Regions from separate parts of the Homo sapiens genome. Here all the other regions are reported to be linked to region 2. Evidence: microRNA targets listed by miRTarBase, many of them from high-throughput screens and not tested one by one. Region 2 holds a microRNA gene; each other region holds the end of a gene's coding sequence.
What was found. The annotated mature microRNA hsa-miR-455-5p reads UAUGUGCCUUUGGACUACAUCG and lies in region 2 at 1,348-1,369, opposite strand. An mRNA with a match to its seed (bases 2 to 7 or 8) in the 3' UTR can be bound and repressed. Matches are read on the target gene's strand: a 7mer-m8 pairs with bases 2 to 8, a 7mer-A1 pairs with bases 2 to 7 and ends in A, and an 8mer does both.

Region 1: the mRNA of CCNI is a reported target of hsa-miR-455-5p. Seed matches in the 3' UTR shown: 7mer-A1 at 486-492.
Region 3: the mRNA of PRKD2 is a reported target of hsa-miR-455-5p. The part of its 3' UTR that is shown has no 7-base or 8-base seed match.

Annotation. Positions count from the first base shown.
Region 1 is chr4:77,044,524-77,048,523 of GRCh38, reverse strand. CCNI (cyclin I) reads left to right here. Exons shown (of 7, transcript NM_006835.3): 7 at 1-1,369. The coding sequence ends at 305. Among named protein-coding and RNA genes, the nearest start is that of CCNI, 29 kb to the left of the region's middle.
Region 2 is chr9:114,206,667-114,210,817 of GRCh38, reverse strand. It overlaps MIR455 (microRNA 455), which reads right to left and starts at 1,384; the gene lies at 1,289-1,384. It overlaps COL27A1 (collagen type XXVII alpha 1 chain), which reads right to left. Exons shown (of 61, transcript NM_032888.4): 11 at 1,090-1,143.
Region 3 is chr19:46,671,202-46,675,201 of GRCh38, forward strand. It overlaps PRKD2 (protein kinase D2), which reads right to left. Exons shown (of 18, transcript NM_016457.5): 17 at 3,832-3,917; 18 at 3,115-3,534. The coding sequence ends at 3,322. All of the region lies in intron 2 of DACT3-AS1 (DACT3 antisense RNA 1), which reads left to right. Among named protein-coding and RNA genes, the nearest start is that of DACT3, 12 kb to the left of the region's middle.

The DNA of each region.
Region 1 (4,000 bases), not on the chromosome of region 2:
TCAGATTACATCCCTCCTCTGTCCCAGGCCCAGACTTCTCCAAGGACAACAGCAAGCCAGAAGTGCCAGTCAGAGGTACAGCAGCCTTTTACCATCATCTCCCAGCTGCCAGTGGGTGCAAGCAGACCTCTACTAAACGCAAAGTAGAGGAAATGGAAGTGGATGACTTCTATGATGGAATCAAACGGCTCTATAATGAAGATAATGTCTCAGAAAATGTGGGTTCTGTGTGTGGCACTGATTTATCAAGACAAGAGGGACATGCTTCCCCTTGTCCACCTTTGCAGCCTGTTTCTGTCATGTAGTTTCAACAAGTGCTACCTTTGAGTGTAAACTAAGGTAGACTACTTTGGGAATGAGAACATGCAAAATCAGGAAAGGCTGTAGAAGGAAATATACCTTAACAGGCTGATTTGGAGTGAGCCAGAAAAAAAAAATAAAACTCTCATTATTTGTGTGGCTAATTATAATTCAGCGTTATTTAAGCACATAAAGACCAAAAAAAAAAAAAAGAAATCCAAAAGATCCAAACTTTTTTTAAACTTAAAAAATCTCTTTGTAGTATGTCAGTTGCACTTTTTTTCTGCCATAATGTAACGTAGCTTGCCCCGTCAAAAATTCAATTAAAATTCATGGCCAGCAATCCTGTTCCCCCTCAGCATCCTGATTTAATTTTCCTGTTGCTTTTGCTTGCTTCTCCATTTAATAGTTACTGAACTTTATGCATGTTGATCTATATTGATTTTCACTGCAGTTGAATGAACAAATTATTTCAGTGTGACAGCCATGACTCAAGTTCCAATTAGTCTGAAAAGGGTACTTTGGAATTGTCCCATATTAATCAGAGATGGCAAAAGAAAAAGTTCTCATATTACCAGGTTGATTTTGTGTCTCATTTCAAATTTTAATTTAAAATTATGGTTTTCATTTTTGTTTACCTTAAAGTGATGCTTAAAAGTGGCATGTAATTAGGACACTTAGGTTTGTTGAAAGCATTTTCGACATTTGTATAAAAGAATTTGTGATAAATATATCCAGGTGCTCACCAAAGAAACATGTATTAACAACTTAAATTAGATTTTTCTAACTGATAGTTTTCACTCATTTATAATCAGTAGGAGAGACTGTCTAGATGTTGGGGCAGCTCTATGATTTAAGTCTGTAACATGTTATAACTGAATTTAGTACCCTAGTTTTGTTAAGCTATTAGGATTTTCTAATAGAACTTACTCCCCCTGCCTCCCCAGCCTTATGTTTCTTTTAATGACTTCTGGATCCTGAGCTCCCTTTGCAGTCTGAAAAAGGTATTGCAGTCAGAACTGTGTACTGATGATAAAAGCCTCTGGTAGCAATAAAAAGTTGTCCTTAACTTTTGTTTTTGTGACTTTTTTCTGGTTGTGAAGAGGTACAGGTTCCTGATTGGCTAGGCACTGCTATTTCAACTAGAGAAAACAATAGAAAGACCAAGAATACACTTACTGAAAATAAAACATGAAGAGGATCTGAATGTGATCGAGGGATATAGGTTTTAGACATAAGAATTTTTCTTTCGTGATATTTTTTCACTGGTGCACTGTGAATCCTCCAAATAGTAAATTTACATCTTAATGTGACTGCTTGTGAGAGTAGGCTCAGACCCCTATCTTTAAAATGTCATTTTTAGCCATTTTGTAATGTTCAGATTTAGCAGAACAAGAGTATTTTCAGGTCATCATCTGATTTGTAAAAAATTCTTGTGGTAGGGTTGACTTACCTGTTTTATGACCTTAAAATCCAATTAAATGGGAAGCATTTACTCACATGTCAGTAAAGGGAGTGGGAGGGAAGATAGCAAAGGATTGGCTTCACAGATAGACATTTTAAAAATTTCTCATCCTGATCTTCATCTGTTTAATTCATCTGAATTGTAGGAGCTCTAAGAAGTTTACAACTGCATATGTTCATAGTATCTGTAAAATGATACAGATACTATGAAACTTCCTCCTATTTAACAGATGAGGACATAGTTGTGTTATGTAGACAGCTAGGGATAAAACTGAGTTTAGAGTCAGTATTTCATTTGTAGTCCAGTAGCTGCAAATTGAGCAGAATGTTAGAGGACAATAGGATTTTCACTTTTCAGTCTTAAGGTTTTCAACATTTACAAATTGCTGGTAAGTTAGTTTGGAACACAGCATTCTTCTCATGGGACACCGAATCAAGTGGGATAGTGGGCTGCTAGCCCTCATGCCTCAGAGCTTATTTAACCCATCGTTCAGTTCAGTGATAGTTTTGGAGACCTGGCCCTCAAAAGCACTGTTAAACCTTGGCCACCATTTCAGAGGACTGAGCCCACTTCCTCACAACTTACTGTGGGCCCTTAGAGAACTGTGGCTTGTGACAGAAAGAGCCTAGTATTCTTGAACAGTGTAGAACTTTTCATTAAGAATGTTCCGGTCGGGTGCGGTGGCTCACGCATGTAATCCCAGCACTTTGGGAGGCTGAGGCAGGCGGATCACGAGGTCAGGAGTTCAAGACCAGCCTGACCAACATGCTGAAACCCCATCTCTACTAAAAAATACAAAAATTAACCAGGTGTGTAATCCCAGCTACTCGGGATGTTGAGGCAGGAGAATCGCTTGAACCCAGGAGGCGGTGAGCCGAGATCGTGCCATTGCACTCCAGCCTGGGCAACAGAGGAAGACTATCAAAAAAAAAAAAAAAAAAAAAAAGTTCCTGCTGTTCAATTAGTTCCTTTTACCTGAAACTATTCTCAGCCTGTCCCAAGTTACTTGTGTTAAACTTTGGCATCACATCACAAACTCAAGATCCAGAAACTTGAGCACTCTGCATCATAATTGTCTTGTGCCTCCTGGTGGTTAAAAAACCTGTCGCTCCGTGAAGCCTCTGGAAAGGCAAGGGAATATACTTGATGGGGATAGTAGTTATTCTCTAATCCTCCATTCAACCAAAAAAAAAAAAAAAAAAAAAAAAACCTAAACATGTTCTAGCCCTTGAAGATCAGACTGGAAGCTAAATATTTTACTTCTTCATTCTCTACGAGATGAATATAAAGTTAGTTATATAGAGAACTATAAGTTTTCTCTACAGATAGACGATGTATTAGTTTGGAGGGAGAAGGGAAAGCTGGGAACGCAGAATGCTCCCAAATGTCAGTAAAAGGTCAAATATGACCAGTTTGTCATAAATGTTCCTGATGCTACCTTTGGCTGTGAAGGAAGGTAGAATGTAGCTCTTCACTCAGCCAAGTTGAAGAGAATCTGAACCTATGTTCTTGAGAGAATTAAGACACTGGTGTTTGTGCCCCCAAGAAATACTATGTATTTTCTCCTGTGTTATTAGAGTCAGCCACTTGTGTGTGTCCTCTGTGCTCTTTACAAACCTGAATTTTCAAGCTATTAAATTTACTCCTAGATTTCCTGAAGCAAGTTATGCTTGAGCATTAGTGCCCAAAGCAGCATGGTGGCTTTTCACTTGAGAAGAAAATGTGGTTAAGCTACTGATGTACAGCCAACATGATGAGGAGCTTATCTTTATCTAAAGTAGTTTGCACATTTTCAACTGGAAAGCGAAGATACTATGTCACAGGTTCTCACAACCAACCTGGCAGAATGCATCCCCAGTTTAACAGGGTTCAACTTCTAACTCATCTCAAACGTTTACCCTTTCTATTTGACATCATGAAGTTTTGTCTAACATGTAAATGTTACTTCTAAAGCCTCGAAAATTCTTTCAGTCTTTATGTTGAGGAGAATGTCTCCTATACCTGTTATCAAATAATGCTATGAGTTTTGGCCACTAGATGGTGCTTTTAGAAAAATACAGCATCTTTTTCAATTTCTGGGAGAAATTGAGTTGAGTTTACTGTATGTTAGTGAGCAGTTGAACACTCATCTGGTTGCTGAGCCAACTGTGTTGGCTTAGTTAGAAGTTCATATTACTTAAGGTACAGGAGGCCTGTGTGTGTGAGAGACAGGGAACTTTGGCAAGATCAGCCAGG
Region 2 (4,151 bases):
GGGTCGGGGTCTGTGGTGACCTAAGAGACAGAGAAATGCCAGTTCCTGTAATCAGCAGGTGCTTCATAAATGCTCAGGCTCCAGCTGTCCTAAGGTTCTCTATACCCAGCTTATGGAGGTTACAAGTGAGTTCCCATAGATACGGGCTCAGGTTGGGAGGGGGCGGGGAGGAAGATCCCGAGGCCACCACCCCAGGGGCTTCTAATGGACCTCCAGGCTGGGCCAGGGGTCTGTGAGAAGCTCCCACACCATCTTTTGGACTCCTCTGACTTAGATACTTGGTCTGGAAGGACAGGGTGTCTTAGGAAATCTTAGCACCCACTGCCCACCACCAAACCAGTCCCACCACCTTCCCCAGACAGCCGCTCCCCCTGGCTGCTGGAACTCCTGCCACCTGCTCTTGCTGTCCCCACCCCCAACCAACACATTTTACTCAAGTAAACCAACTGATCTGTCTAAAAGAGGAATCAGCAGATGGTTTCTGGAAAGGGGCAGATAGTGAATATCTTTGGCTCTGTGGGCCATACGGTCTCTGTCACACCTACTCAACTCTGCCATTGTAGTGAGAAAGCGGCATTGACAATATGTAACCAAATGAGCAAGGCTGAGTTCAATAAAACTGTTTGCAAAAACAGACAACTGGCTGGATTTGGCCCATGGGCCACCGTTTGCAGACCCCTGATCTATATTATAAAGTGGGCCCGGTGTTCATTGGTTGCAAGTCCTCAAGAGGCTCCGCATACCCTCAGAACAGAGTTCCTTTTCTAACCTTAGTCCTGGGCACCTAAGACATTGCCCCAGGGTCCTCTCCAGCCTCAACTCCCACCACTCTCACCCTCTCACGCAGCACTTTGGCAGTGTTGAGTGTTAAACTCGCCAAGTTACCGTAAATCCCTGACTTCGCACATGCTGTTCCCTATGCCTGGAATGCATCTGCCTTGACTTGTCCCCTTATCAGACTCCTACTCGACTCAAGTGCACCTCCTCCAGGAGGAATTCCTTGACTTCCCCAGGCTGGTGCCTGGCAGGTTCTGCTCTGTTTGGGCAGGGGTGGCTGTGGATGGTGAATAACCAAAGAAGCAAACTTACTCGTTCTCCATCAGACCCTGGCAGGCCGAAGAGCCCTGGGAGCCCAATGTAGCCCTAGGAAAGAGAAGAAAGGGGGTCAGAGCGGTCAAGCAGTGAGGTGTGGCTGGCCCAACCTGCCGCAGCCCACCCACCACTGCCATCCCACATCCCGGCTCCTCCTCTTCCTCCCTGGTGGCAGTGGCAGCTCCGGTGGCTCCTCGATGACATAGGCCTTGAGGCAAGTGTATATGCCCATGGACTGCATGGTGCTGGCTTCCACGATGTAGTCCAAAGGCACATACCCTCACGCCAGGGAAGGGCGCAGGCGCTCGCCGGCAGGAGGCCCGCCCCACGCCAGGGCTCCAGGACCTGCAGAAGGAAGCTCGCGGCTGGGTTAGATGCTAGCACGGCACCAAGCCCTGCCCACCCCCAGGGATGCTGGTAGGTGCCCGTGGCTCCTGCCATGGCTCCTCCTAGGCCTTCAAGGTCCTGGATGTAGGGCTTACATCCACCTCTGGCCGCCTGAGTGCTGGCATTAACTAACAGCGGCTGCGAACCCGGAGTGCCAACATTGTGCCAGGCACATGCATGCTACCACATTAGACTCTCACAAGGACCCCCCAGATTGTCACCACCCACACTGGACAGACAAAGAAACTGAGGCTCTGTAGATAAAGCAACACGACTAGTCAGTAGTGGAGCTGTGAATTCTCTTCGGGAATTCCTAATCAGTTCAAGGGTCACCCAGGGCCAGCTGACTCCACAGCTGGGGCTCGTCACCATTCTGGGGCTCTTCCCTAGGATGCATCTCATTTCCTCCCTCCCAGCCTTTCCTCACTCTGTCCCCTCCACCAGGCATGTCCTTCCCATCCCTCATGACTTCTGAGCCAAATCCTTCAAAGCCCAGCTCTCATAAGCGCTCTCCTTGGGCAAGCATCCCTGATACCCCAAGCCGGAAGCAATCTCTCCCCCCCATCCCCAGTGCCATTTTTGCACCTCGGTAGCATCCTTCTCCACTTTCTCCCTTGTATCTTCATTATTTGTGTTCATGCTTCACGTCCTCATTAGCCTGGGAACTTCTAAAGGGCAGTAACCTCGCCCGGGGCTTCTACCACTATCTGCGTGCCACTCTTGGTGGAATGATTTAATAATAACTCTAACAAAAGCTAATGTTTATTGAGCACGAATGATAGGCCAGGCCTGCTGCCAGTGCTTTGCATATATTAAAGCATTTATTCCATCCTTATCACACCCCGAGGAAGTATTATATTTTATTATTTTTTTATTTATATATATTTTTTGAGACGGAGTCTTGCTCTGTCATCCAGGCTGGAGTGCAGTGGTGCGATCGTGGCTTACTGCAACCTCTGCTTACCGGGTTCAAGCGATTCTCCTGCCTCAGTCTCCTGAATAGCTGATCACAGGTGATCACAGGTGTGCACCACCACGCCCAGCTAATTTTTGTAGTTACTTTAGTAGAGACGGGGTTTCGCTATGTTGACCAGGCTGGTCTCGAACTCCTGGCCTCAGGTGATCCACCCGCCTTGGCCTCCCAAAATGCTGGGATTACAGGCACGAGCCACCGCGCCCAGCCCTGAGGAAGTATTATTACTCAGCCCCCTGTAGAGGTAAGACCATTTAGGCCCAGAGGGGTGAAGCAACTTGCCTAGGACCAAACAGCTGAAATGTGGTAGAACTGGTATTCAAATTCAAGTCTTCTGACTCCTGGGCCTGGGCTCCTAACCACTCTGCATACTGCCTCTCCTCAAACAAGCAACCAATGGAGGCTCACAACCATCTCTCCTTCCCTGGAAGGCCAAGAAGCCACTGAGCCTCCTCGTTGGCATCCAGCATGATTAATATCCATAATCTGAAAGAGTGCCATTTACTGCCATTCCAAATAGTGCTTATCTCCCAGATTTACAGGTGAGAAAATAATTGGCTCAGAGAGGCCCAGTGACTTGCCCAAGCTCCCACAGCTAGCTAATGGCAGGGCAGGTCTCAAAGCCTGTCATCCTGATTCCAAAGCCTGCCCTCTGCCTACTTCAGAAATATGAGGCTGGTGGTGGCAGGGTTGGAAGGGCAGCTTGAGTGACTCACTGCTCATCCAGGCTTCCCACCCAGGGCTGTGTGGCCTGTAAGAGACAGGAGTGCTGGGGCCAGACCAGTCCTCTCCTGCTATGTGACTTTGAGATGCCACCAGCCTGGCAGGCAAGTCGAGCAACCCCAGATGTCATTAACATGCCTGTCCTTCTGGCAGGTCAGGAGATCAGGACTGGGGCTGGACTGAGAAGACCTTTCTCCTTGGGTTTAGGGGGTCCCTCTGGGGGAATGGCCCATGGGAGCAGCAGAATAAAGGAAGAGAGGCACAGCACCCTGGGACAAGAGCCTCCTTAGGCCCTGCCTGTCACAGTAACCTCCTGGGGAATGCACCTCCCCGCCCCCACTCCCGCCTCCCCACACTCTCCTAACAGCCACCAGTCAGCTGCAGGGATTAGGGCTGAGACTGCAACTGTTCTGTCCTCTCCCTCCTGCCAAAATATAAATAGCTTTGGCTCAGGAGCAAAGGATACGTGATCTGTCCTGACCGAGGACTGTGTGACCCCCTTCCTGAGCATTCCTTGAGAGGCAGCAAGTCCAGGCCTCGGAAGACTTGGGTCCCCATCCCAGATCCGCCTTAGGCGTGCAGTGTAAGCTGGGGCCATCCAGGCCCCGCCATGAACCCAGTTTCTTTGTGTGTAAAAGAAACGATTCCACCACATCAGCTCTAAATCTTTCCAACTCCATTTACCCCATTCGGTCCACCCAGAACCCTCTCTGTCTTCCCACAACCCACATGGGAGTCCCCACCTGGTGGCCCCCTCCTGAGCTGTCAAGTCAGCTTGACATAACCAGACTAGAGGTACAAATGGACATCATGACCATTGTAGAGGTAGGCAACTGAGGCTGATCGCTACTCGGGGTCTGCTCCATGGGGGCCTTGAAGGAAGGGGAGATCTGGAAACTCCACCAGGCTGCAGGCTTGGGCAGCATTCCCACACCAGGTGCCCTCCACAAAGAGTGGTTCCCCCCAGCCCTCATTT
Region 3 (4,000 bases), not on the chromosome of region 2:
TTGAGGTTGAGTGCAGTGGCCCACACCTGTAATCCCAGCACTTTTGAGAGGTGGAGGATCGTTCAACCCCAGGAGTTCAAGACCAGCCTCGGCAACATAGTGAGACCCCATCTCTATAACAAATAAAAAACATGCCCGGGCACGGTGGTTCATGCCTGTAATCCCAGCACTTTGGGAGGCCGAGGTGGGCAGATCACTTGAGGTCAGGAGTTCGAGACCAGCCTGGCCAACATGGCAAAACCCCTTCTCTACTAAAAATACAAAAATTAGCTGGGCGTGGTGGCATGTGCCTGTAGTCTTAGCTACTTGGGAGGCTGAGGTGGGAAGATCACTTGAGCCCAGGAGGTTGAGGCTGCAGTGAGCTGTGATCATGCCACTGCACTTTGGCCTGGGCAACAGAGCAAGATTCCATCTCAAAAAATAATAAAATAATAAAAAAATTAAAAACTACATAAAAAACAAAAAATTAGCGAGGTGTGGTGGCTCATGCCTGTAGTCCCAGCTACTCAAGAGGCTGAGGGGGAGGATGGCTTGAACCCTGTAGTTTGAGGCTGCAGTGAGCTACGATCATACCACTGCACAGAAGCCTGGGTGATAGAGCAAGACCCTGTCTCTAACAAACAAAATTAGGTTTTGTGATTCCAGTGGTCCTGATAGGATAAACTTTTTGTCTCTAATGATTTAAGTTATAGGGCCCTAAGTTTTCATTGTATGGATTTGATTTTTTTTTTTTTTTTTGAGACAGAGTTTCGCTCTTGTTGCCCAGGCTGGAGTGCAGTGGCACGATCTCAGCTCACCGCAACCTCCGCCTCCCAGATTCAAGCGATTCTCCTGCCTCAACCTCCCGAGTAGCTGGGATTACAGGCATGTGCCACCATGCCCGGCTAATTTTGTATTTTTAGTAGAGACGGGGTTTCTCCATGTTGATCAGGCTGGTCTCAAACTCCTGACCTCAGATGATCCACCCACCTCAGCACTCAAAGTGCTGAGATTACAGGCGTGAGCCACTGCGCCCGGCCTTGATTTTATCTTTCATGGCATCCTCATGATATACACTATCTCCTGGAATTCTATAATTGAGGAATGTTTTTGAATCACGTCTCTCATTTCTGGTCTCTGGATATTAACTAGTGGCCAAGACAGAAGCAGATCAGGGGTGATAGTCTTTTCCATACATTTTCTAGCCTGGGTCTGTCACGGGAGATGGATTCATCTCTATGTTGCCTACACTTCTGGACCTTAGACTAAACAGAGGGATAGGCACTGGGGATGGAGTCTAAGAGCCTTTCCCCAATAGTCTTAGCAACTATGCCTCAGAGGTATACTGCTCCTTTGGATACCTTCATTTACTGAGGCTCGTTTAGCATTTTCAAATCAAAGAGCTGCATTTTGGCCAGGCGCAGTGGCTCATGCATGTAATCCCAGCACTTTGGGAGGCCTAGGCAGGCAGATCGCTTGAGCCCAGGAGTTTGAGACCAGCCTGGGCAACATGGTAAAACCTCTGCAAAAAATCCAAAAAATTAGCTGGGCATGGTGGCATGTGCCTGTAGTTCTAGCTACTCAGGAGGCTGAGGTGGGAGGATCACTTGAGCCCAGAAGGTCAAGGCTGCAGTGAGCTGTGTTCATGCCACTGCACTCCAGCCTGGGAAACAGAGACCCTGCCTCAGGAAAAAAAAAAAAAGCTGCAGCTCTGGAACCATCAGATGGACAAGGTGATACAAATCAAATTGGAAAATCCCAGAGTAAGCTCCCAGTATTAGCCTAAATTGGCTACTAAATTCTTTCCTGTTTTCCTGGGTTTTTTAAGGCTGTGTTGCCCAAACTGGACTCGAACTCCTGGACTCCAGCGATCCTCCCACCTCAGCCGCTTAAGTAGCTGGGAATACAGTCACCCGCCACCATGCCCAGCTTTCAGATAGGTCTTTGCAGCACGTAAGTCAGAGCGTTCTGAAAGTCTGAAGAAAACTTGTTCAGGTCCATGCTCGGATCGTTCACCTTCAGCTGTGGAAGGTGGAGGACCATGTGTTAGGGTGTTACTGGAGAACTGGGGAGGTGGAGGGCTGGAGTCAAAGGTAGAGAGAGGTGGATACGTGTTCCCTCCAGTTCATTCCCTCTGCCTTCAGTCTTTCAAGGCCAAGATGAAGCCTAAGAGGTCACCTCTGATTCCCCACTCTCTCTGACCCCTGAGCTCATTCTAGGCTGCCCAAGCCTCCCAAACTCCCCCAGTCCAGCCCTTCCCGTTCTGGGTCATCACTGTCCAGGGGCAGGTATGTCTCTCTACTGGCAGGGCAGTCCTTGGCTGTCTCAGTCACCACTGTGTCCCCAGCATCACCCAGCTCAGTGACACAAAGGAATGAGTGAATATATACTTCTCTATTTCATAGATAGAGAAGTCATCACATCAACATAAAATAAAATACTGAATGTTACGTATCAGTTTTCTAGTATGGATCAGACTTGGGCTAACTGCATTTTATTATTTGACTTTTGAGACAGGGTCTCACTCTCTTGCCCAGGCTAGAGTGCAGTGGTGTGTGATCTTGGCTCACTGCAATCTCTGCTTCCTGGGCTCAAGCGATCCTCTAGCCTCAACCTCCAAGTAGCTGGGACCACAGGTGCAAGCCACCACACTTGGCTAATTTTTGAACTTTTTGTAGAAAGGGAGTTTCACCACGTTGGCCAGGCTGCTCTCAAACTCCTGAGATCTAAGGGATCTGCCTGCCTCGGCCTCCCAAATTGCTGGGATTATAGGCATGAGCCACCACACCCAGCCTGAATTAATAGTTGTGATTAGTAGTAACACCACCACCAAATAAAAAATCAGTCATCACAAACCATGAGATTACTTTTTCTCCAAGTTCTCTACCCTCCAGTCACATTCCTTCCATCTCTCCCCAGTTTCCAACTCCTCCTCCATTACTCCTCCCTCTCCCTTCTCATCTTCTCTCCTGGCACTCTTCCTGTATATTTTCTACCCCAGCTCGTCCTCCTTCCAAGACTCCTCTCCCATCAGTCCTCTCTCCCCACCCCTTCCATCCTTCCTCTTTTCAGGCAGTCCTCCTTCCAGATGAACTCCATGTTGGTACAACAGAGTAATGATTCGAGAGTGCCGTGTGCTGAGATCAAGGCCATGGGGCCAGAGATGAGTCCGTTTTAATTGCTGGGGAAACAGGGAGGGGCCTTGGAAATAGCTCCCCCCACCCCACTCCCCACGTGTCCCATCCAGTTTGGGCAGGAAGCCACTTTCCCTAGAACAGTTCATTGCTGGGATCCTGTGAAGAACCGCTGTGGAGGGCAGCAGCTGGACGAGGGCACAGGACCTCAGAGAACACTGATGCGCTCCGCCAGCCCCTGCATGTCGTGGTCCTGTGGTGGACAGGCCCCACCGAGATCCCTGTCCGTGGGCAGCCCAGACCCAGGCAGCGGATGCTCTGCTGCAAACTGCTCCCAGCGCGCGTCGTCACTCTCATGCGTGATGTATCGCTCTCCCATCTTCCCCTCCAGCTCTCGGAGGTCCAGCCACGTCTGGTACTCCTGGGCCCGAGAGAACTGGGGTTAGCTTGGGGTCTGCATTGGAGCAGTGCCTGGATATCCTCTGGTTTGCCACTGAGAGCTGGGTACCAATGAAGGTGAAGCCATACCCTCTGCAACCCACCCAGCCAGTAGACATTTAGCTCCACCCCCTCTTCCTGCACCCAGCCAATGGGAGGCCTAGCCACATTCCAGACCCAAGGAAACCTACATCCTTCACAACCTGCCTAGCCAATAAGCGATCTACTCCCACCCCTTCCTCCAATCCAGCCAATGGGCCAGCCCTGCCCCCTGCATCACCTGTAACCAGGGGTGGCTGAGAGATTTGTCCACGCTGTAGCGTTTGCGCATCTTCACCTGCAGCAGGTTGTTGATGAGGTCAATGGCTGCACAGGAAAGAGAAACAGGTCAAGCCCTACAGGTCAAGGGTCACTCCTCCTCCAATAGGCACCCCCTAGCCTACCTGCCT